Homo sapiens: one gene and its partners. The protein of the gene in region 3 purifies or fractionates together with the protein of the main gene of each other region. This does not show direct contact. Each region holds a gene or a part of one and is shown on either strand. Other genes may lie near its edges. The genes, in order: PCYOX1L, KCNJ8, CD1B, PODXL2, DIPK1A, MAN1A2 and ULBP3.

What was found.
Region 1: the proteins of CD1B (region 3) and PCYOX1L purify together in Homo sapiens (affinity purification with mass spectrometry; 3 studies listed by BioGRID and IntAct, with this or other methods). This does not show direct contact.
Region 2: the proteins of CD1B (region 3) and KCNJ8 purify together in Homo sapiens (affinity purification with mass spectrometry; 3 studies listed by BioGRID and IntAct, with this or other methods). This does not show direct contact.
Region 4: the proteins of CD1B (region 3) and PODXL2 purify together in Homo sapiens (affinity purification with mass spectrometry; 3 studies listed by BioGRID and IntAct, with this or other methods). This does not show direct contact.
Region 5: the proteins of CD1B (region 3) and DIPK1A purify together in Homo sapiens (affinity purification with mass spectrometry; 3 studies listed by BioGRID and IntAct, with this or other methods). This does not show direct contact.
Region 6: the proteins of CD1B (region 3) and MAN1A2 purify together in Homo sapiens (affinity purification with mass spectrometry; 3 studies listed by BioGRID and IntAct, with this or other methods). This does not show direct contact.
Region 7: the proteins of CD1B (region 3) and ULBP3 purify together in Homo sapiens (affinity purification with mass spectrometry; 3 studies listed by BioGRID and IntAct, with this or other methods). This does not show direct contact.

The regions. Positions count from the first base shown.
Region 1 is NC_000005.10:149,364,546-149,368,045, reverse strand, and holds part of PCYOX1L (prenylcysteine oxidase 1-like isoform 1 precursor), read right to left. Parts: intron 2,105-3,500; coding exon 1,893-2,104; intron 687-1,892; coding exon 546-686; intron 54-545; coding exon 1-53. UniProt on the Homo sapiens protein: Likely to have oxidoreductase activity. Required in the mevalonate pathway to regulate prenylation and enhances the bactericidal activity of neutrophils.
Region 2 is NC_000012.12:21,768,207-21,771,706, reverse strand, and holds part of KCNJ8 (ATP-sensitive inward rectifier potassium channel 8), read left to right. Parts: intron 1-3,500. UniProt on the Homo sapiens protein: Inward rectifier potassium channels are characterized by a greater tendency to allow potassium to flow into the cell rather than out of it.
Region 3 is NC_000001.11:158,328,732-158,332,842, forward strand, and holds the start of CD1B (T-cell surface glycoprotein CD1b precursor), read right to left. Parts: upstream 2,801-4,111; 5' UTR 2,693-2,800; coding exon 2,632-2,692; intron 2,332-2,631; coding exon 2,065-2,331; intron 1,400-2,064; coding exon 1,121-1,399; intron 918-1,120; coding exon 639-917; intron 284-638; coding exon 190-283; intron 1-189. UniProt on the Homo sapiens protein: Antigen-presenting protein that binds self and non-self lipid and glycolipid antigens and presents them to T-cell receptors on natural killer T-cells.
Region 4 is NC_000003.12:127,642,685-127,646,184, forward strand, and holds part of PODXL2 (podocalyxin-like protein 2 precursor), read left to right. Parts: intron 1-3,500. UniProt on the Homo sapiens protein: Acts as a ligand for vascular selectins. Mediates rapid rolling of leukocytes over vascular surfaces through high affinity divalent cation-dependent interactions with E-, P- and L-selectins.
Region 5 is NC_000001.11:92,874,463-92,877,962, reverse strand, and holds part of DIPK1A (divergent protein kinase domain 1A), read left to right. Parts: intron 1-812; exon of another isoform or gene 813-1,002; intron 1,003-1,532; coding exon 1,533-1,667; intron 1,668-3,500.
Region 6 is NC_000001.11:117,524,449-117,526,910, forward strand, and holds part of MAN1A2 (mannosyl-oligosaccharide 1,2-alpha-mannosidase IB), read left to right. Parts: 3' UTR 1-2,462. UniProt on the Homo sapiens protein: Involved in the maturation of Asn-linked oligosaccharides. Progressively trim alpha-1,2-linked mannose residues from Man(9)GlcNAc(2) to produce Man(5)GlcNAc(2).
Region 7 is NC_000006.12:150,060,553-150,063,337, reverse strand, and holds the end of ULBP3 (UL16-binding protein 3 precursor), read left to right. Parts: 3' UTR 1-2,285; downstream 2,286-2,785.

The DNA of each region.
Region 1 (3,500 bases), on a different chromosome or scaffold from region 3:
AGAGCTGTTGCCTACCTCATTCTCATACGCCACCTGGTACAGGGCTTTCCCCTCTGGAAAGAAAAGAGCACAAAAGTCAACTTTCCCTTGGCTTCTACCCACTGAACTCCCTACTGGGGTCCAGCATTGAGGTACAACGAGACCCTGGTGCTCAGGGTGCAGCAGGGCTGTCTAAATGGTGGGTCCTGGCCTCTCCATGCTGATGCGGCTGCAGAAGAAGCAAGGGGCATGGAGTCAGGAGACTCAGTTTCTGCTCTGCTTCCGCCGCTGGCCAGTTGGGGGAGCGTGGGCAAGGATGTCATTCAAAGTCCTCATCGGTCAACAGAAAAAGGCTGGGTCGATGGAAGTCTCAGCTTTCTGGCTGACATCTGAATTGGGGAAACAGCACCCTCTAGTGTCACCTGGCAGGGTTGGGGCTTCTCAATGCTTTTTCGGAAATACTCCCCAGGGGGATCACAGACCAGGGCTGAGGTACAAAGGAGGCAGAAGTGTCTGTCCACTGGCTGGGAATGGCATGCCTGCCCACTCCCGCCCTGTCTACTCACCTGTGCTGTGCAGGGTCACAGAGGTCACTGTGGCATGGATCACATTGGCCTTGGTGAGCTTCAGCAAACCGGAACAAACCAGCTTATTGCCTCCTTCCACAGACCACAGGCTGCCTTGGGCCCCGGCTAGTGACATGGCTCCTGGGCAAAGCGGGAAGTGGGTGCTGATAGGTTGTCAGGGCCGTGGGGCAGGAGGGCTGGGGAGTCCAGTACTATTCGACTGGGCCTCCCTGCCAGAGCAAAACTCTCCCAACCATGGGCATGGGGAGATGGCAAACATACAAGTAAGTACAACAAAGTGCACAATGCTATGGGGGGAAGACACTGTGCTCAACGAAAGAGCCAGCTCCCAGAGACCACATATTGTGAGGTCTATTTATGCAGAATGCCCAGACTAGGCAAATCCACAGAAACAGAAAGCAGATCTGTAGCTGCCCAGGGCTGGGAGGCCGGGGGGTGTTGGGGAGGTGAGGGCTAAAGGGCAAGGGGGTTTCTTTCTGGGGTGATAAAAATGTCCTAAAATTGATTGTGGTGATGGTTTTAGAACTCCGAATGTGCTAAAAACCACTGAATTGTGCAATTTAAATGGGCGAATTATATGGTATGTGAATTCTATATATCTCTACACAAAAATGCTATGAAGGAGACACACAAGATACTGAAAGAGTGAGCAAGGAACACTGAGGGGACACTGAGGCAGGGCCTGAAGGCTGCGAAGGAGCCAGCATGTGCAGAGCCAGATGAACAGTATCGAGGGTACGAGGGAGGTGCTTGTTATTGTAAACCTTTGCATTCATTTATTTAACAAAAATATACCCAGTGCCTAGTATGACTTAGGCACTGTTCTGTGTTTGCAATGTATCAGGGAACAATAGACAAGGATTCCTGCTCTTGTGAAGCCTACATTCTCCACTCCTGTGGTCTGTGCTAGCAGACAGTGAGCTACACACAGGCCCAGCCACTCCCGTGAAGAGCTGGGAAGAGGAGGTGCTCTCACAGTGGCTCAAAGGCCTCAACAGGGCAGTTCTTGAAACCAAAGTGTAGAGAGCAGAGCATTATCTCAGCTCTAACATTTACACACATGCAAGGGATTATGAAGCAATTGGGAGTGGTAGAAACACACTGGACCTGTGATCTGAGCCTTGCTTTCACTGTCTGTGAAGTGGGGTGATACTATCTCCTGCCAACTCATGGCCAGTCCCAGAATCAGGCAGGATGGGGCAGCAGAGTGCCTATGTGACTGCAATGAGCTGGATAAAAGTGAGGTTATTATGGGGACCCCCAGCCCATTCTGAGCACCTTGGGTGGAGGAGGGGCAGGTGGGCAGGCCAAGGGTTGGACGCTTACCTGCAAAGGCGGGCATCGCTGCTGACTGGCCATAGCTGGCCCGCAGGACAGCAGAAACGACATCATCAATAAAGCGCTGCGTGACGCCCACCTGCAGCAGGGACTCAGCCACAGAGTGCTGGGTCATGTTAACAAAGGTGGACTCCCCCAGTGAGTAGAGCAGCTCCTCCACACCCGAGAAGGCATAGCCGTGGGCCTGGTACTTATAGATCCTAGAAGACACATAGAGCTGGAGTCCTTGTGCAGGAAGGCTTTTTGCCTGACCACCTGCCCCTGGGTTATAGTGCCTGGGAGGCCCACCAGGAACCCATCACTTCCTCTACATGGAGTGGTGGCAGAAGAGGCTGGTCATGTTCCCTGGCACCTGTTCTCTGACTGTGGCGGGCCTGTCCCACCTAAAGGGAGTGTGAAGGTATGGAATCCTTCTAGGCCTGGCTTCACATCACGGCTGTGCTGAGTAACAACTGTATCACTGCTCTGAGCCACTCCCTGCCTGAGGTCATAGTTCATAACCCTTTCTTCACCCAGCTGGGGCTACGGCCCACCCCTGCTGACACATCTCCTTCTCCAACAGTGTCGGTTCTGCCACAGCTTCTAGGACCTGATGACACACTGCAACTTCATGCTGATACTGTCACCTTCTCTGCCAGTCCAGCCTGTCCTCTCCTCTCGCTTCATCTGACAGGGCTCCCACTCACCCCCAGGCTCATGTCCTGTCGCTCTATCACTCATGCAATCTCACTAGCATGGATTGGAACCATCGATGGATTTCCTGACTGGCTGGCCTTTGAAATGTTGCCCATTCTAGGGCTTCTTTTGTAAACATGTTGAGTTTGGTTATCAATAGGACACGAGATGGAGGTGTCCAGAAAGTTGAAATGTGGGTCTGGAAGTGAAGAGGAAACTAGGGCTGAGAGGGAGAAGTCATTTCCCATAAAACGTAGAAGTCAACATTATTGGTCTGGATATAATTGATAAGGGAGAAAAATATCAGAAAGAGAGGTAAGGAAATAAGCTTTGGGTGACATCTGGAGAATATAAGGAAGAAGTGCTATAAACAGCAGAGTTATAGAATGGGAAGGGAGTGGAGAAGTGCCAGGAACCAGGGCAGGAGGGCACAGGCCACACTTGAGTGACACTGAAGGGAGGCAGACAGTGATGGGGTCCGGGGAGCAGCCCCTGCGCCTTAGGCTGGAAGCAGGGAGCACCTTCAGGAGGGACTTTGGGGAAAGGTGGAGTGACAGCTTGGTGAACAGGGAGGGAACAGACCACTTGCCCTCCACATCTGGGACCAAAGGTGATGGGGAGGGGGCTGGAGCCCAGGGATAGGAGGAGTGGTGAAGAAAGGTGTTTATTCTAGATGGAAAAATGAGGACAACAAAGTTTGCAAATGAGTGGTCCACAGGCTGCATCTGCCCTGCAGAAGTGTTTCATTTGGCTTACAAGATGAATTGGTTGCAAATGTTGAAAAACTGAAAAGATTTCACACACGACTCTGGATTTCCAGCTTCTTCTGAAAAGTGAGTAGATCTAGCCACATGAGGTGGGCATTGTACACGGCTGGCTGCAGATGGCTGCGGTGGAGGGCTGGCTGCCTCCTTCAGAGGG
Region 2 (3,500 bases), on a different chromosome or scaffold from region 3:
AATGGTAACAGCAAACCTTAAAAATCTTCATTCTCTCCCAATGAGAATGTAAAAGGTGACTAATAATAATTCTAATTCTTTGCATTTTTCCCTTTGTGAATTCAATGTCCAACCATATCACTAAAATTGGAAACAACATTTTTCATTGAATATTCACCAGTATTTCCAAATAATGTTTGACCATTCTTCTCTTAGGGTGACTCATTTTCTCCTCCATGTATTTTCTCCTGCAAGGAGTCTCTTTGACTCCATTTAATATGAGTCAAAAAATAGACCAATATATTTCCTCTTTCTCGATATTATCCAGCCTACCTCTTTCTGTAACAGAACAAAGAAACAGCTAAACACTTTTATCTCTTGAGATTGTTTAGCATAGCAAGTGTCAGTAAAAAGCTGGGTCTTGTACCATATGTAATATTTAGAATTCATAAACAATATACAAAATGTGGCTCATGAATAGTCTCTTAAACCATTAAAACAAACTATTTGGGATATTTATCATTAGACTGCTCTCTGAGGTATGGATACATTATCAGAAATCAGTGTTGTATCCATACCCCTTCTCTGGGGTCCATTTTTATTCTTGCCATGTTTTGGGGCTATACCAGATATCTTTTTGTGGGTAGTTAGTGCAATAGGCAATTACTGTAGTTTTCCATGAATCATTTTAGCAACAAAAGAGAAAGGCAACTTTCGCACTTCACTTAAAAGCTAATCAAAAGAATAATCCATGTATTCTTGCTTATCCCTCATAATTTTCTACCAAAGTGCACTGTACATACCAAGTACTCAAATGTTTAAACATTTTTCTCACCTGCTGTCTGTAGCATTAATAAATAGGTAATACTTTGAGAGATTGCTAATGTGTAGGCTTGTCTTCTATAAAGTTAGAGAAGTTTGAAATTGTGGTTGGGGGCAAAGATAGAACTAATATTGTTTCTATGAAGAAGCCACAGCAGTACTTGTTGTGAAATTAAGTGTTATAAATTGATAGTAACAAATGTGGTGCTTCCCATATGGGAGTAAATCAGAATCCCCTGAGAACTTTTCAAAAGCATCTTACCCAGATCCAACCTCAGCCTACCAAATCAATGTCTATTCACTAAGATAGGGAGTAGATGTGCAATTTGAAAAAGCTTCCCAAGAAAATCCTACAACTTCTTGGTTCCTTCCCTCTGCTTCTTTCACAGGATTAGGCCAAAGTGAGAAAATTCAAGTTAGTATAATATTAATTACAGGTATACCTTAGAGATATTGCAGTTTTGGTTCCAGACCATTGCAATAAAGCAAATATCAAAATAAAGACAGTTACACAAACCTTTTGTTTCCCAGTGCATATAAAACATTTATATTATATTGTAATCTAGTAAGTGTGTAATACCATTATGGCTGAAAAATATACATATCTCAATTCAAAAAATATTTTAATGCTAAAAAATGCTAATGTTCATCTGAGCCTTCTGCAAGATGTGGTCTTTTTGCTGGTGGAGGGGCTAGCCTTGATATTGATGGCTGCTGATTGATCTGGGTAGTGGTTGCTCAAGGTTGGGGTGGCTGTGGCAACTTCTTAAAATATGACAATGAAGAGTTTGCTGCAACAATTGACTTTTCTTTTCACAAAAGATTTATCTGTAATGTGTGATGCTGTTTGATAGCATTTTACCCACAGTAGAACTTCTTTCAAAACTGGAGCTAATCTTCTCAAAACCTGCCACTGCTTTATCAACTAAATTTATGTAATCTTCTGAATTCTTTGTTGTCATTTCAACAGTGTTCACAGCATCTTCACCAAGAGTAGATTCCATCTCAAGAAACCACTTTGGTTGCTTGTCCAGAAGAAGCAACTCCTCATTCATCCAAGTTTTATCATGAGATTGCAGCAATTCAGTCACATCTTCAGAATGCCCTTGTAATTCTAATTCTCTTGCTATTTCTACCACATGTGCAGTGACTCCCTCCACTGAAGTATTGAACCCCTCAAACTCATTCATGAGAATTAGAATGAACTTCTTCCCAACTCCTGTTAATGTTAATATTCTGACCTCCTCCCGTGAATCACAAATGTTCTTAATGGCATCTAGAATGGTGAATCCTTTCCAGATGGTTTTAAATTTACTTTGCCCAGCTCCATCACAGGACTCACTATCTATGTCAGCAATAGCCTTATGAAATGTAAATTTCTTAAGTAATAGGCCTTAAAAGTCGAAATTACTCCCTGACTCATGGCTGTAGAATGGATGTTGTGTTAATAAGCATAAAAACAGCAATCAACTCCTTCTACATCTCCATCAGAGCACTTGAGTGACTAGGAGCATTGTCAATGGGCAATAATATTTTGGAGGAATCTTTTTTTCTGAGCAGTAAGTCTCAGCAGTGGGCTTCAAATATTTAATAAATCATGCTGCAGACAGATATGCTGTCCTCTAGCCTTTATAGTTCTACTTATAGAGCATAGGCAGAGTCAATTTAGCATAATACTTTGGGGCTCTACGATTTTCAGATTGATCAATGACCATTGGCTTCAACTTGATGTTACCAGCTGCATTAGTTCCTAACAAGAGTTAGCCTGAACTTTGATGCTTTGAAGCCAAGCATTGACTTCTATCTAGTTATGAAAGTCCTGGGTAACATCTTCTTCCAATAGAAAGCTGTTTCATTTTCAACACTGAAAATCTGTTGTTTAGTGCAGCCACCTTTACTAATTTTCTTAGCTGGATCTTTTGGATAACTTGCTGCAGCTCCTCCATCAGTACTTGGTGCTTCACCTAGCACTTTTCTGTTTTGAAGGTGGCTTCTTTTCTTAAGCCTCCTGAACCAATCTCTTCTAGCTTTAAACTTTTCTTTTGCAGCTTCCTCACCTCTCATCCTTCATAGAAATGAAGAGAGTTAGGGCCTTGCTCTAATTCAGGCTTTGGCTTAGGGGAATGTTGTGACCTAGTTGGTCTTTTATCCAGACCACTCAAATTTTCTGCATCTCAGCAATGAGGCTATTTTGCTGTCTTATCATTTGTGTCTTCACTGGAGTAGCACTTTGAATTTTTTTCAAAACTTTTTCTTTCCACTGTTCACAACTTGGCTGTTTGGCACAACAGGCCTAAACTTTGGCCTATCGTGGCTTTTGACTTGCCTTCCTCACCAGCTTAATCATTTTTGCTTTTGATTTAAAGTGAGAGACAGCGAATATTTCCTTTACTCGAACACTTAGTGTTCTTTGTAGGGCTATTAACTGACCTAATTTCAATAGTGCTGTGTCTCAGGGAATAGGAAATCCTGATGAAAGGGGAAGAAACAAGGGAACAGCTGGTCAGTGGAGGACTCAGAACACACACATTTATCGATTGTTTGCCATCTTATATGGGCATGGCTCATGGTGCCCCAAACTAGGGGTTCCCAATCCTTGGGCTGCAGACCAGTACTAGTCTGTGGCCTGTTAGAAACCAGGCCACATAGCAGGAGGTGAGCAGTGGGGGAGCAAACATTACCTCCTGAGCTCTGCCTCC
Region 3 (4,111 bases):
AACCTTATGTTATGTGTATTTTAACAGAATTTTTTTTAAGTCCACATAAAACGAATGGGAGTTTGGGGAAAGGATATGGTGAAAGGATTGAGGATAAACAATTTTTAAATAGATAAAATGGTAAAAAACAGTGGAAGGGTGAACAGAAAAGACATATTAAAAAAAAAAACAACACCACCCACAACTCACCGGCGCCTCATATACCATAATGCAAGGCATAGCAAAAGGAGCAAGGAAGGCACTATTATTGCCAAAACAATTGAGCCAATGGAGGTGGGGTTTCCTGGCAATTGAGAGAGGACAAAAGGATGTCACTTCAGATACTATACACAGAATTCCTTGGCCTTCCTTTGCCCACCTACTTCCAATGTATGGTCATTTCCAACTTCCTCTCTCATATTCCTGGCCACCATATATCCATCCTTTGATCCCCTCTACCCAGTTTACAGGTCCTTAATTCCTACATTTTTGATAACTTGGATTATCTATTTTTACTCCTGTTGGGATTGGGGTCAGGGAAATCAATCAATCAATCTCTCCCTCTTTCATCTCTCAAGCTCTATCCTTCCCCAGTGCCTCCCTCTATGCCTGAAGATCACTTCCTGGCATTTCCAGCCTGGGTCCCTGCTATTTCTTACTCCAGTAGAGGATGATGTCCTGGCCCTCTAAACTGCTGTGCTTCACCCGACAGGACAGGCCAGCCGCCTCCCCATCTGCCACATCCAGGGTTGCTCGGAGATACCATGTCCAGTTAGCATTGGGCAGGATGTCCCCTAGCTGAGTGCCCTGCTGCTCCTGCTCACCCCGCATCCACATCACCCACACGGGCTTTGGGTAGAATCCTGAGACATGGCACACAAGCTGCAGACGGCCAGGTCCAGGACTGGGGCCACTGGACAGCCAGGCCTCAGGCTTCACTAAGGCAGGAAGGAGAAAAAAAAGTGTCATGTTATAACTCGAGTTCAGAGGTTATGAACTCAGAAACCTACAAGCTTGGACAGCGACCCCATTCACTCCTTTGGGAACCAAATAACTTGTTATTTAAGCTCCTATCCTTTGATATCTTCCTACTCTTGATCTTAGAGGAGGTGGTGGGAAGTGAAATAACAGCAGGACTAACCTTGTCTTTGCAGATCTGCTTTTCCTGCATTGAGGACGCCCAAGAGATATCGGGGGCAGGTTTCATAGAGGAGAATTCTCACAGTTTCCATGATACCTTGATATTGTATGATTAGTGCACAGAATTTCTGTGCCCTGCTGCCACCTTCTGGGGAAGGCACACATGAAGCATTCTTGACACTCAGGAAATCCAATCCTCCTAGAGCTCCCCTCAGGAAGCTTACTATGGCACCTCCAGAATGTAGCTCACAGCCTGCTATGCCCTGGATCTCAAAGGGGTCTATGTAGAGGGAAAAGAGAGCAAGTTATTAAACACAAATAAGAAAAAAAGGCATGAGAAAAGAACCTAGGATTTTAGATTTTGGTGGGGATAAAGTTATTTGGTGTAAAATGATGATGAGCTAAAAACTAATGATAACATTTAGACATTTTCAGAAACAAGAGCATTGAGAAAAATGTGCATGCCATGAAGACAAAGGTATGTGATAAAGGAGTACAGTGAGTATGAAAGGAGAGGTGAGGCAGAGCGTGGTGCAGTCAGGAGTGCAGCATTCCAGAGTGAGTGGAGGTTCCCAGCAAGAGGAGGGTGCGGGGAGGAGATGATTGAAAAGATGGATTAGGGGAGAAAGCCACACGTTAGATCACTCAGGCACAGGGTAGGAGAAGTAAGGGCCCTTGAGGAGAAGTTTCACATAAGACAAACCAGCAGCTGGTTACAAAGTGGAAGACAGTCTGAGAGTAAGAGAAGAGTGCAGAGGCAGCAAGAATCTGAAATATGAGGTGTGATGGTGTGAAGCTGGAGTGAGAGACTACTCAAGAAAAGCATGTGCGTGCATTTGGGTAAAATAGAAAGGAAGGGAGAAGCATCAGAGAGAGCAACACTTTGCAAAAAAGAGAGAAAAGAGAGTCCTTGAGACTCTTCCCAGTTCGGTGGACTAGACTCACATTTCATCTGGAAATCACCGGCAAAGTCTTGTACTTCTCGAGCGAATCCAAAGATGTAGACTCGGAATATCTCCTCTAACTCAGCAACCTCCTTATCACTAAAGTTACCTTTAGACCAAGGCTTCAGGAATATGGCAGTGCCTGAGTCGCTATCCCAGCCATGAATCTGCAAATCATCCAACCAGCCTGAGCCTTGAGTTTGTGCCCAGGTACTATTGGTAAAGGACGAGGTCTGGATAACATGAAAGGAGGTCGGCCCCTGGAAGGCTGTGAAGAGTGGAAAAGCAAGATGGTGAAGATAAAGAGAGAAGCAGGAGACAATTAGGAAGAATGGGAATGAAAATGATTTAGAAAACAAGAACCTAGAGTCTAAAGAACACAGGAAGTCTGACACATTTGACTGCCTTAAGGCTTCAGGTTCTAGTCCCAACCACCAGAATGGTTGAAGAGGGCGGGAGACAGAAAGACCCAGACCCTTAGTGTCCAATTGCACCTAGGAAAGCCCTGCTTGCTTTTTAAAATCCAAACCCCTGCACCAGTGCTGGGAGCTGCCAGAGTGACTCTTACCATGTTCACTGTTACCACCAGGAAAGAGAACAGCTAACAGTTGAAATGGCAGCAGCAGCATTTCACTGGGAGATGCAACTTCTTACTGGCAGAGCTGGTATTTGATCTCCAATTTCAGCAAAGCTTTTCCTCAGTACCCTGTAGTGACTTCTTCTCTCTTCCAACTGCCAAATCTCTTCCTCATCCAAACTGCTTTTCAGAGAAAAATGTGCCTCCCACAGCCCTGAGCCTCTTACCTCACCTTTTATTTCCCTCAAGCCCTGATTTTTAGAGTTTCTCTTACCCCCTGACTTCCAGCCGCTCTCCCTGTCCTCACCTTCCTTCATACCTCCTTGGAAAAGCCCCCATATGATTCTGCATTTTCATTTCTCCTTCCTTAGCCTTTATTCCCACATCTATAGGATAAGATGGTGATATTAAGCAATTGCTAAGCTTTTAGTCTGCTTTAACCCAGAAGGATGCTTTTAGTTTATCCACCTCACTTAGTTTCTCCCCCTCCCAGCTGCCTTATCTTCTCTGGCACTCTGTTACTGCCTCTTCCCAATGTTTTCAATGTCTTCTCTTTCTTATATTGCCCTCTTTGTCTGGTGTTCCTTACCCCACATTCTAAACTGGCTGTGAGTGTGTGTGTGTGTGTGTCTGTGTCTGTGTGTGTATGTGTATGTGTGTGTACCGATATTCACTTACATAAAGGCAAAGCATTTAAAACATTTCCTGTACTATAGCACTACAAACCAAAATGCCAGAATCAAATATAATAAAGACTGAAGTTTATAATTCAAACAAAATTATACTATAGCAATATTTGAGGGAAAAAATGACAATTGCTGCTAGCATGTGACCTTCTCTTCAGGAGCTCTTGGCCTATGGAGTTTTGAGTAACAAATATTCATGACATAAACAGAACTCTAGGAGCTATGCTATGTGCACCTCCAGCCTAAGTCAAAGATAACTTTTTGGGTAAGTTGCCATAAGCGGCAGAGCTTTTTTCTTCTCTTGTAATATCTCATAACTGCTGTCTACATTTGGGCATTCATATCACCACATGTGGTATTAATAATAGAGCAAAGAGGTTGCTTTTTTTTATACAAAAAGTTCAGAGATACTTGTTTTAAGATGTCACCTCCTATCTTCTTGTATGCCCATGAAAAATTTTAAGAAGAATTTTTGGATTTTCTCCATTTAGGAAAAAAATCACATATTTGCAGAGATCTATGTATCATGCAGAAATGTGGCAGCAATCGATTCCGAGTAAAGAGGGTTATCACTAACTAATTCTATTATGTGGATAAGAAAATGCAAAGTGAGTAGTGTAGTGTTCTCTATTCCTGGGGACACTACTGGTTCACAACATTAATAAGACTGGTTCACAACATTAATAAGACTAGCCTTCATCCAAGATTATTACTGCCTAATTGATAAATACAGAGCAGCTCTCCAAATTTCAATGTATGTATCTCTTAACAACATTCCCAGACTC
Region 4 (3,500 bases), on a different chromosome or scaffold from region 3:
ATATGTACAAAACATATGTGTACGTTCATTATATACAGAATATGTGTATTCTATAGAATATACATATACACAAAAATAGTGACCACTTATCACTCTTCTTTTTTATTTGAAGCACAGTGTAGTTAAGAGAACAGGCTTTGGAGTCAGGAAGGCTCCAGTGCTGTCATTTAACAGTGATGCAATTTTTGGCGAGTAACTAACCCTAAGCCTCAGTTTCCCATCTAGGAAATGGAGATAATTATATACCTACCTCACAGGGTTGTGAGGTTCACACACCATCATACATTTCGAGCACTCAGCTCAGTGCTTGGCACATTGTTAAGTGCTCTGTGACTATTAGCTATTATTATTACTTTCCTGTTTTTTTCTATTGAGTCTTTAATTTTTTCTTATCCCTGTACAAATCTGAAAAAGGATACTAACTTTCCTCTGACATACGTAGAAAACATTTTTCCAGTTTGTCAACTGCTTGTATTTTTATTATAATTTTTGGCATAAAGAAATTAAATATTTTATAAGCTTAAAATTACTTTTTTTTTCTTCGAGATGGAGTTTTGCTCTAGTCACCCAGGCTGGAGTGCAATGGTGTGATCTCAGCTCACTGCAACCTCTGCCTCCCAAGTTCAAGCAATTCTCCTACCTCAGCTTCCCAAGTAGCTGGGATTATAGGCATGTGCCACCACGCCCAGCTAATTTTGTATTTTTAGTAGAGATGGGATTTCACTATGTTGGCCAGGCTGGTTTCAAACTCCTGATCTCAAGTGATCCACCTGCCTCAGCCTCTCAAAGTGTTGGGATTACAGGCATGAGCCACCACACCCAGCAAAATTACTTCTTTTAAAATGTTTTTATGTGTTTTTCTTTACTTTATGATTAGAAAATACTTTCTGCCCTTGAGATACATGCACCTTTCTTCCTTCTATTCTTTTTTTTTAATGTAAATTCTTTTTTTAAAATTATTTTTATTTTTTGGACACAGGGTCTCGCTTTGTACCTCAGGCTGGAGTGCAGCAGCACAATCTCAGCTCACTGCAGCCTTGACCTCCTGGGCTCAATCGATCCTCCTGCTTCAGCCTCCCAGGTAGCTGGGACTACTGGTGTACCCCACCACGCCTGGTTAATTTTTCTGTTTTTTGTAGAGACAGGGTTTTGCCATGTTTCCCAGGCTGGTCTTGAACTCCTGGGCTCAAGCAATCCACCTGCCTCAGCCTCCCAAAGTGCTGGGATTACAGGTGTGAGCCAGCACGCCTGGCCCCTTCTATTCTTTAGCTTAATTTTTTACATTTAAGTCCAATCTAGCTGTAATTTATTTTTGTGTGTGGTGTAAGATAAGGATCTAATTTCATTTTCTCCATATAGATCATCTATTGTCATGGCGGCATCCATTGATAAATCTGTCCTCTTATCATTTTAAAGAAATGATATTTTGTTGCTGTTGTTGTTTTGAGATGGAGTCTCACTCTGTTGCCCAGGCTGGAGTGCAGTGGTGTGATCTCTGCTTACTGCAACCTCTGCCTCCGAGGTTCAAGTGATCCTCCTGCCTCAGACTCCCTGGTAACTGGGATTACAGGCGTGCCACCATGCCCAGCTAATTTTTGTAATTTTAGTAGAGGTGGGTTTTACCGTGTTGCCCAGGCTGACTGAACTCCTGACCTCAAGTGATCACCCACCTTAGCCTCCCAAAGTATTGTGATTACAGGTGTGAGCCGCTGTGCCTGGCCAAGGAATGATTTAAACAAACTTTTACATTGTACCAGACAATTATTGGGTCTTTTTCTGGCCTTTCCCTTTTGTTGAGACTATTGAGCGTCTAGTGTGAGGTAAGCAGTCACGCAGAGAGCATTGGCCTCAGGACCACAGTGGAGGGCCCTGAAGCCTTGATGAGCTCGATTTGTTGTCCTCCCCCCTCCCCAGGGGATTCGTTTCCCTTTCTTTTTCTTTCAGTTCATGTCTCTTCCTCTCCCATTTCCTTCCCTAGGTCTCATAAGAATAAAAATAGCTCTCATTCATTGAATACCGGCTATGCATAGGCCTTTGCCTCGATTGTCTCTAGTCCTCACCACAGCTGCATACAGCTTGGCTGTGAGGTGGAGATACCAATCACCCTACCCAGGATGGGCAGAAGGCTAGGGAGGTGCAGGGAGGAGGCCAGGAGGCAGAGGAGGTGCAGGGAGGAGGCCAGGAGGCCAGGCAGGTGCAGGGAGGAGAGTTGCTTCAGTCCTGTCCCTCATTGCTCCTCTCTTGACCTGTCCCCTCGCCTTACGTTTCCTCAGGTCAATCTCTTCTCTGTACTACCTGACCATGATCCTGTGAAAAAACTGGAGTTGCCCATCTTCTTCTCAAACAAACTAGCAAACAAACCCCTTCTCAAACCCCAAAGCCCACAGGTTAAAGGCTGAACTTATTAGCATGGCAGAAAATGCTCTTGATAGTCCGGCCCCAGCCTTCCCCAGCCTCTTCTCCTTCCTTGCTCCAGCATGCATCTGATTAGCTCATCATCAGCTTGTTCTCTTCCTTGCTTGGCAGAGTTGAACTGAGGCATGGGGAAGTAGGGTGCTTTGCCCAAGGACACATTGCTTGGATGTAATGGAGCTGGATCTAGAGTCAGTGTCTTCTCACTGACAACAGCCTGGCCTATTCCCTAAGCCTGTGATGCACTTGTTCCTCTTGTCCCATCTGCTGGGAAGCTCTTCTCCATCCTGATGTGCTAGTGGATATGTATTCGTCCTTGAGTACCTAGCTCAAGAGGACTAGCTTCAAGAGGCTTTTGCCAGCTCTGACCAATGAGCAGGACCAGTGCACGTGGTTATGCTGGTGGTGCCCTGTCCGGGGCTCCTGACCGAGCATGGGAGTTGGAGCTGAAGTCCAGCATACACCCTGCCAACCAGGCCATGGGCTGGGTGGGAGGAGCACCTTTTTCTAATTCATTTGCCCAGAGGGGACATCTCCGTGTACTGGCAGTGGCCCTGAAATCAGGCTAGTGACCCCTGCTTCTGTTTTCTTGCAGCACCTTGATGGCATATGATTAGGACATGACAGAAGAGAAAGTGGCTAAGGTGGCAGGCTGACAGCGAATAGTCAGGCTGGTGTAGGAGGCAGCCCAGGGGACAGTGGCGTGCCCTACCCCCCTATTCTTGTCTGCTCTTGTGCCCCGGAGCCACAGGCTTCTGTCTAGGGGTTCTTGGGGAGAAGGAGGTGGATCACCTCTTGGGGGTTGGAGGAGTCAAAAGAACCTTGAGAGGGCATGCCTGGGTTGGGAGTCCTGCAGAGTCCAGATTGACTGTGCCAAGTGCTATCCTAACATGGCCATTAGGGACATTGAACTCCATGCAGCAGTAGCAGGGACTGCTGAAAACCATGCTGCAGACAGGCCAATCTCAGATCAAGTACAAGTACATCAATCAATGTATTCAACACCCAGTATGTGCCCAGCACTATGTTAGGGGTTGTGGGTTCTCATTTAACGTCCACTGAAAAATGTAAGTATATATTCTTACTTC
Region 5 (3,500 bases), about 65 Mb from region 3:
AATTGATTTAGCTAACATTTGCTGAATACTTACTACGTGCCCAGCAATATGCTTATGTTTTATAGGCATTATGTCATTTAATCTTATTTAGGTTCACAATATTAGTACATGTCGATTTCTGTCTGATGACCAAACCTCTTATTAGAGACGAGTCATCTTAAATATCTTTCAAACAAACCCCATGGTATATACCCCATTGTCTTTTATGTGATTTAATTTGGAGTTTAATCTGAACTTTCTTTTTACTTAGAGCAATACAAAAGTATCTTGCATTAAGGCACTTTTTCATTTTAATAATAAAGCTCAGAGACCTACAATTTTACTGAGAACTCATTGTACTCAAGCCTTTTGGTACAGGGATTCACCATCTGTTAACCTCACAAAGATATCTAAACCACAAATAGGGCCAATAGAATTCAGTATTTCCTGAGTCTCTTTTTCCTTTGCACTCATTGTCTTCTGCAGGTGTGCTTATGTCTCTCTCATCTCTTTCTGCTTCTTTGCATGCTCACAATGCTCACAATATCCTACTGTTCCCAGTGTGAGAAACTGGCTCGTGATTGTAAAAGCAAAACTAGCTTTTCATTGTTTGTTTACATATCTTTAATTTATTCTGCCGAATTCTCTTCGTAGTCCTCAGTTCTGCTGTTTATAAAACCAGACCATGGGTGCTACAGACTCAAAAAATAAATGTCAAATAGTCTTGATCAAGTGTCACTTTTGAAGATGAAACTGTTTGATATGTAATTGATGGAAAAAAGGCATCAACCAGCCCGAGTTGCAATTAGATACAAGAGCACTGGAAACAAAACAATGCAAAGAGGATCCTATTGTGCAGCTTTACACTTTGCAAGTTGATATGCAAAGAGTAACTTATTTTTAATATATCTTAACCCTTCTCCAGTCATTTCTCCTTTAACAATTGTTAGCGTCTCCTCAGTTTCCAGAATATCTATTCGGTGAAACATTTGGTTCGCTGAACAAGAGGAACATAAAGCCCTGGTGAATACAATAGGGAAATAGAAATGACTGTAGAGCTTAATTTCTTGTTCTGGTTGTCAGTATGAGACATTAGACAAATAGCCAGATTTTCTGTTCTTATTTCTTTAAAACAAAATTATTTTTATCATGATTTTCCTAAAGACCTTTAAGATTCTTATGTGAAAGAGTCTTTTGTAAGCTTCTAGTAAATAGGAATTGTACCTCTCTTTACCTGATCTCACAAGGTGCCCAGGGTAGCATGGTACATGTGCTTGTGCCTAAAAAGTAGCTTTGGATGATGGTGGTATTTGAAAGGTTATACATCTTAAAGGATATTTTGTTCCCTTTTTCCTTGGCAGGACCAAGGAGCTTCCTTTTCTAAGACCAGTGCTGTTTGGACTCAGTGAAAGTGCACTTTGTTCTAGAATTGCCATATAAAAGCCTGGAATATATATTGAGTTGTTCCAAGAAGGGTGAGAAGTCGTGTTCTAGGACATTGAATGCTGATTTGGTGCTGAATGAATGATCGTTATGTTCTTTTTTACTCACAGGCTCGCTTCTCATATGTGCGGATGAAATATCTTTTCTTTTCCTGGTTAGTGGTTTTTGTTGGAAGCTGGATTATATATGTGCAGTATTCTACCTATACAGAATTATGCAGAGGAAAGGACTGTAAGAAAATAATAGTAAGTATTTTAAATTTCCTGTTTACTAAAAAGCCTCTTCATAACACTATATTTACTGCTTACATACTTACTAATGATGTTTTTAAAAATAAAAGTTAATTTGACATTAGAATTGTGCTAATCTTCTTAGCTTTTTGACATGACCCATTAGTAAAGTTTTCCCCACTTTGAAAATTCCAGTGTTCAGAAATTTAAATATATAACACATAAATAAGTTAGTGTGGGGGCATCCTCAATACAAAGAAGGATTTTTATTATATATATATATATTTTTAATATATTTAAGTTTTAGTTTATTTCAATCAGATGAGTTTTTTAATGTTTAGACTATAAAAGCGTATTTACAGGCAGACTTTCTAGAACACATCTTTTACTCTTGAATACCAAAATTTATCTAAAAGGATTATTATTCTGTTTCTATCCTAGTGATTGGATGTATCTCAGAAAAATGACTGTATCAGTCTAAGATTTCTAGTAGTGATCATTAATTCTATAGACTTATATTTTAAAAATTTGAGAATTTCAAGTAAATTTAACTCCTTTTTTTCCACCAGTACTTTCTCTCTTTTTTTTTTTTTTTTTGAGACGAAGTCTTGCTTTATTGCCCAGGCTGGAGTGCAGTGGTACAATCTCAGCCTACTGCAACTGCCTCCCAGGTTCAAGCAATTCTCCTGCCTCAACCTCCCAAGTAGCTGGAATCACAGGCTCGCACTACCACGCCTGGCTAATTTTTGTATTTTCAGTAAAGACGGGGTTTCACCATGTTGCCCAGGCTGGTCTTGAACTCCTAGCCTCAAGTGATCCGCCCTCCTTGACTTCCCAAAGAGCTGGGATTACAGGCATGAGCCACCGCACCTGGCCTCTACCAGTACTTTCTAATATAAAGAATATTAAAACACTCCATCTCAGAATTATATTTGAATAGTAATGATTTGGAGGGTTCCAATTATTATAACTTGTTAAAGATTCTATAGTTGTTGAGTAGCTACTCTTTACCCAGGCCAGTGGTGTATGCATATAACAGGGAGCAAAATATCTTTGACCTTATAAAACTTACAGTGGATCAGGAAAGAAAATGAGTAATTACAGTAAGGTAAGATAAATAAGATAGCAACTGTTATGGGAACATAAGACGGAAACCTGGAGCTTCCCCAAGTTCTAAGAAAATAAAAACCAGTTTAACACAAGGTGCTTCATCAGTTAGGATACAAAAACACGTTATTCCACAGGAGTGTTACAGTCTTTTAACTAGGCAAGAGAGGGGAATGAGTTAGTAAAGAAGAGTCCTAAGTCAAGGTTCAAAGATAGCAATCCTGTGTTCATTCCAACTGGCCATTCTAGATCCTTAAGGAATTTTAAGATAGGAGGTATCTCTGGGGCCAATGTACTGGGTACTTTACATGTTCATTAATCCTTAGCATAATAGTGTACAGATAAAGAACTATGACCCAGAGAGACAGGAGAATTTGCCCAAGATGATGGAACCAGAATTTGATCCTAATTCTGTCTCTCTATGAAGCTCATACTCCTTCTGCTACCCTACATCAGAAAAGACTGACAGAAGAAGTTACAGTCTAATAAAGCTAATAAAACCCCACAAAACTCAGTTTCTAACCTTCAGTGAAGAAGGAGGAAACAGGAGGTAGATAATCAAGTTCAAAAACATACAAATAACCGAAACTATTTGAAATGTTTATTTCTCTTTCTCTAGGCCACCTTTCTCAAACTAGGTACCTTGGAGCACATTAATAGATATTCCATGGATAAAATATGTCCCTGGTCAGATGTATTTGGAAACAGAGGGTTAAATAAAGATAACAACTGACTTTACTA
Region 6 (2,462 bases), about 41 Mb from region 3:
TAGAAACAGTATAATTAGTATAACATTTACTCTGAATTTGAAGATTTCCTGAAACAAAGTTTGTACAAGAAGCCCACCTTGGAATTCTGAAGGCTTATTTTCTTGTTTGATAAGCTTTTCTTTTAAACTTAGGTTTTAAGTTGGGGAAAGACTTAATTAACTAATATAGTATTTTCTAAGGTTGATCATCTTATACCACGAATCGTTAATTTTGACAGTTCTACTGATCCGTAAATGATAACCACTGCAAATTTTTTCAGTATAAAATTTTTCACTGCAAAAAAATTTCAGTAGAAAATAAGGATGCAGGGCCAGTTACAATAGTCCTTAAGAGAGTTAAATTATAGCACATGTTTTGACATTGTAATATCTTTTACTACTTGAACATTTAAATTTCTAAATGAGAAAGGTATATATATTACTGTAACTGTAGAAGGGAAAAGGGAAAGTATTTGGTTCTAAAAAATGTTAGCCTTCCTCGTAAAAGTAGCACAAGCCCACTTATGAATCACTGAGAAAAAGTGAAAAACTTGAGTTGGCAAAGATGCAGAGCAGCAGTGCAGATGGCAATGAACTCTCTGAATTCTCTTTTACCTTATTTAGAAGAATGCAGAGTAAAGGGACCTTCTTGGTTCTGCAGGAACTTCTCAAGGGATGAGGAGACAGAACCCCTACTTCCAAGTGCTCTATTTGTATTACCCAGATGACTGAAGCTTAAGAGAAGGCAGGGAAGTATACAAGCAGAGCCAGTTCTGGTACAAACAAAGAATTTGACAGGGACAATGGAAGGGTCTTCTTCACCACTCCTTACCTTCTATGTGATGGAAAGACTAGAGCTTATAAAAGTACTTCCATTTTTTTATTCTCCTGAATACCAAAGGCAATTAAAGTCAGCTACAAATGACTTGCCAGTGTCATGTTTTATTTTTGTTATAGATTTTTAAATTATTTCCTTCAAGATCAATTCTTATCCCATATAATGCTTAGCTTCCAAGAATATTCTTTACTTTCTTCTGTCTTTTACAGCTCTTTGCATTTTGTAGACCTTAATACTCAGGTTAAATATTCATTGCATTTATAAGATCTTCTGCAAAAAGCCCAGAAATGGTCCTTTTCAGGTGCCTCTTCAAAGAGCTGACACCTTACCTTGTGCCTTTGGCACAAATGTGCAGAATAGATACATCAGTTGGTGCATAATCGAAAAAAATAGGAATTTTGAACACTGTTCTTCCTTCTACATTTATTTCTCTTCATTTTAGAATCACACTTTTTATGTTAAACCAGATTATTATTATTATTATTATTCAACCAGTATTAAGTTGTTAAAACCAAGGGAATGGGGCCCTAACCAAAAAGAAGTCTCAACTCAGAAAAATAAGTCCCCAGTCAGGTGGTTCTTACTTTCTTGTGGGTTGCACATTTTGTATCTCTCTAACATCAGCGTATTCCTGACTTTAAGCAGGTGTTTATATGTAAAATAAAACCTGGGTATCGAAGGGAAATGCATTCTTTTTATGGAGTATTGACCCTGATCCTCTATGATGTCATATAGAGCAACTCAGGGCTATACTTGCTAGATTTTAACCAAGCAGTTTGAAATATTAATCATCATCCTCTCATCTTCTCCACTCTCCATTGCCAAAGTCTTTGTCAAAACTCCAAATTTGTTGATAAAAGATTGTGTTTGCCATTCTCATTTATAATGCAGTTTCTCCTTAAGCCTGGAGTTTTTTGAATGAGTGCATGAGTAAATGAGAGAATGTGTGAACGAACATTTATGAAGTATCTAACATGTGCCAAGCATTGTGCCTGGCACTTTCAATCATTAGAATGTTTTATGTGATTCCACAGCATTTTCTGTATGAGAGTAGCTCACAACATTTTAAATGTTTCCAATATGAATCGTGTTACAAAATTCTTAATTTTATATTTCATATAAATTAAAGAGGAAAAAGAAAAGGTTTATAATATATTTTAAAACAATGTGTTACTGTATAATACAACTATAATTGTAGTTAATAACTAAAACCTCTTGAAAATGTCAAAGAAATACTTGATTTCTGATGCAACTTTGACTAAAATATTTACTTTAGAAATAAAAACGTTCTTATTTTGCTATATCACTTTAATTGCATAATTAAAAAGCAGTGTTTTATAGAAATGCTGGTTATTTTATATTCAAAAAGATTTTGTCACATAATTCATGGGTAAAACTTGCAGTTGTAAATTGTGTCTGCTCTGGTATGGGCCCTATTAATAGTCCCATGCTGTTAAATATAAAGAAAAATATACTAAAATATTCAAAGTTCCAAATAACAGTTCCTAGTAATAGTATTTTGAGTTATTTTTCTTTAGGTTTCCTTATACTCAAATTGGCTAGGTCCTATCTTTTCCTCTCTCTCTCTCTCTCTCTCTCTCTCTCTCTCTCTCTCTATATATATATATATATATATATATATATG
Region 7 (2,785 bases), on a different chromosome or scaffold from region 3:
CAAGAAGCCTCTGTTAGCCTGGTCTGGTTCCTGCTCTCCCTTCAGGGAGGCCGCCTGTCTACTCACCACTGTGCCTTTCTGGAAAGCAGGAGTTCAAGCCTTAGCAAGCCCAGAGGCCCCCAGCAGATGATGAGGACATTGTCGGCTCAACATCTCAGGCCACTCATTACCTTCGCTCATGATCCCAGCAGCCATTTTTCTTTTTTTTTTTTTGTTTTTTTTTTTTTTTGAGACGGAGTCTCGCTCTGTCGCCCAGGCCGGACTGCGGACTGCAGTGGCGCAATCTCGGCTCACTGCAAGCTCCGCTTCCCGGGTTCACGCCATTCTCCTGCCTCAGCCTCCCGAGTAGCTGGGACTACAGGCACCCGCCACCGCGCCCGGCTAATTTTTTGTATTTTTAGTAGAGACAGGGTTTCACCTTGTTAGCCAGGATGGTCTCGATCTCCTGACCTCATGATCCACCTGCCTCGGCCTCCCAGAGTGCTGGGATTACAGGCGTGAGCCACCGCGCCCGGCCAGCCATTTTTCTTAACACCTTCTGCCACTTTCTCTCGGTGCTAATGGATGGAATTCCTGCACAAGTTTTAACTGAACAAGAAATCCCAGCAAAAGGCATTTTCTTTCTACTTCTTTGATTGTGGAAAAGCAGACATTTCTCTGAAGCATGACCTTATTCTTCGAAACGGTATTGCTAGTAAAATAGCATGCAGGACTTCAGACCTCAGGGATCCTTTCCATGCACTGACCAAGAATTGTATTAATCCTTTTTATCATTATAGTTTTTTTACATTTTCTCATTCTGTCAACCATATTGGAGTGAAGTGGCATAGTCATCACTCACTGTAATCTCCAACTCCTGGGCTCAAGTGATCCTCTAGACTCAGCCTCTAGAGTAGCTGGGACTACAGGCGCATGCCACCATGCCTGGCAAATTGTTTTATATTTAGGTAGAGATTGGGTCTTCCTATGTTGCGCAGGTAATAAAACTGTGAAAATCCTGGAATATAAGCTAAGAAATACCAATGTGGACATAGGGCCTGGCAAAGATTTCATGAAGAAGACACTAAAAACAATTGTAACAAAAACAAAAATTGACAAATGGGACCTCATTAAACTAAAGAGCTTCTGCACAGAAAAAGAAACTAGCAACACGGTAAACAGACAGCGTGTAGAATGGGGAAACTATTTGCAAACTCTGCATCTGACAAAGGTCCAATATCCAGAATCTACAAAGTACTTAAACAATTAGACAAGCAAGAAAAAAAAACCCAATTAAAAAATGTGCAAAGACATGAACAGACACTTTTCAAAAGAAGACATACAAGTGGCCAACAAACGTGAAAAAATGCTCAATATCACTAATCATCAGATAAGTGCAAATCAAAACTGCAATGAGTTACCATCTCTTACCAGTCACAAAGTTGGAGATGGTGGTGAGGCTGCAGAGGAAAAGAAACAGACACTGTTGGTGGGAAAGCAAACTTGTTCAGCCGCTATGGAAAGCAGTTTGGAGATTTCTCCAAGAACTTAAAATAGAACTACCATTCAAGCCTGCAATCCCACTACTCGGGATATATCCACAGGAAAAGAATTCATTTTATCCAAAAGACACCTGCACCAATATGTTCATTACAGTGCTATTCTTACTAGCAAGGACACAGAATCAACCTAAGTGCCCAGCAACACTGAATTGAATGAAAAAAATGTGGTACATAAACACCATGGAAATCTATGCAGCCACCAAACACAGCAAAATCATGTCCTTTTCAGCAACATGGATGGAACTAGAGGCTATTATCCTAAGCAACCTAATGCAAGAACAGAAAACTACATACTGCATGTTCCCATTGGAAAGTGGCAGCTACACATTGAATTCACATGAACCAGAGGCACTGGAGATTACTAGACAGGTGAGACAGGAGGGGCACCTGGGCTGAAAAACCACCTGTTGGGTACCATGCTTACTGTTTGAGTGATGAGATCATTGGGACACCAAGCCTCAGCCTTCCAAAATCTACCCATGTAACAAACCTGTATGTGTACCCTTTAATCTATAATAAAGGTTAAAATTAAAGATTCGTAAGTAAAATAAAATGACATAGAGCCCTCCAAAAAATGGGGTTAACTGAGTGGAACGAGAGAACTTTGCACTATGAACGCTAACCCAGATCAAAAACTAAACTCTAGTCATTTAAAATAATCGTAAGTTGTATATGATGATAATTGTATAAAAGTTATACGTGAAAGTGCCAAACCCTAAAATTAAACACTGCATAATGAAATTATACAAGATTTCCATTTCCATCTTGTTCTTTATACCCTTACTTTTTTTTTTTTTTTTTTTTTTTTTTGCCAGTTTCAAGTGACATTTTTTTTGTTTATCCTCAGGAAATCCTTGCTGTCAGCCTTCTCCTTCTACACCCACCCCCTCCTTTTCCACCGTCCACATCAGCTCTTCCTCTGGTCTGGGACTGTGGCATTCTTGGCACTGAAGGCACAAGAGCTGCATTCAGCCTCAGGAGAGAGGAGGACACAGGGCAGGTTGTGGAGGTGGTCTCACCATTGGAGGGGAACCTAACAGCTTAGGCCCTCTATCACAGATGGCTGTGTTTCTCCACCAGGTTAGCTACAACCAAGCCAACCTTGCCCCTTTCCTCATTGTTTTTTTTCTAATTCTTCCCAACTCGTACTTGAAAATTTATATTCTTCCTCCTAATATTTCTTCGTATTTCTTGTCTGCACAATATATCCTGATTTATTGTGCCCAGAAAACAGTGGACTCACC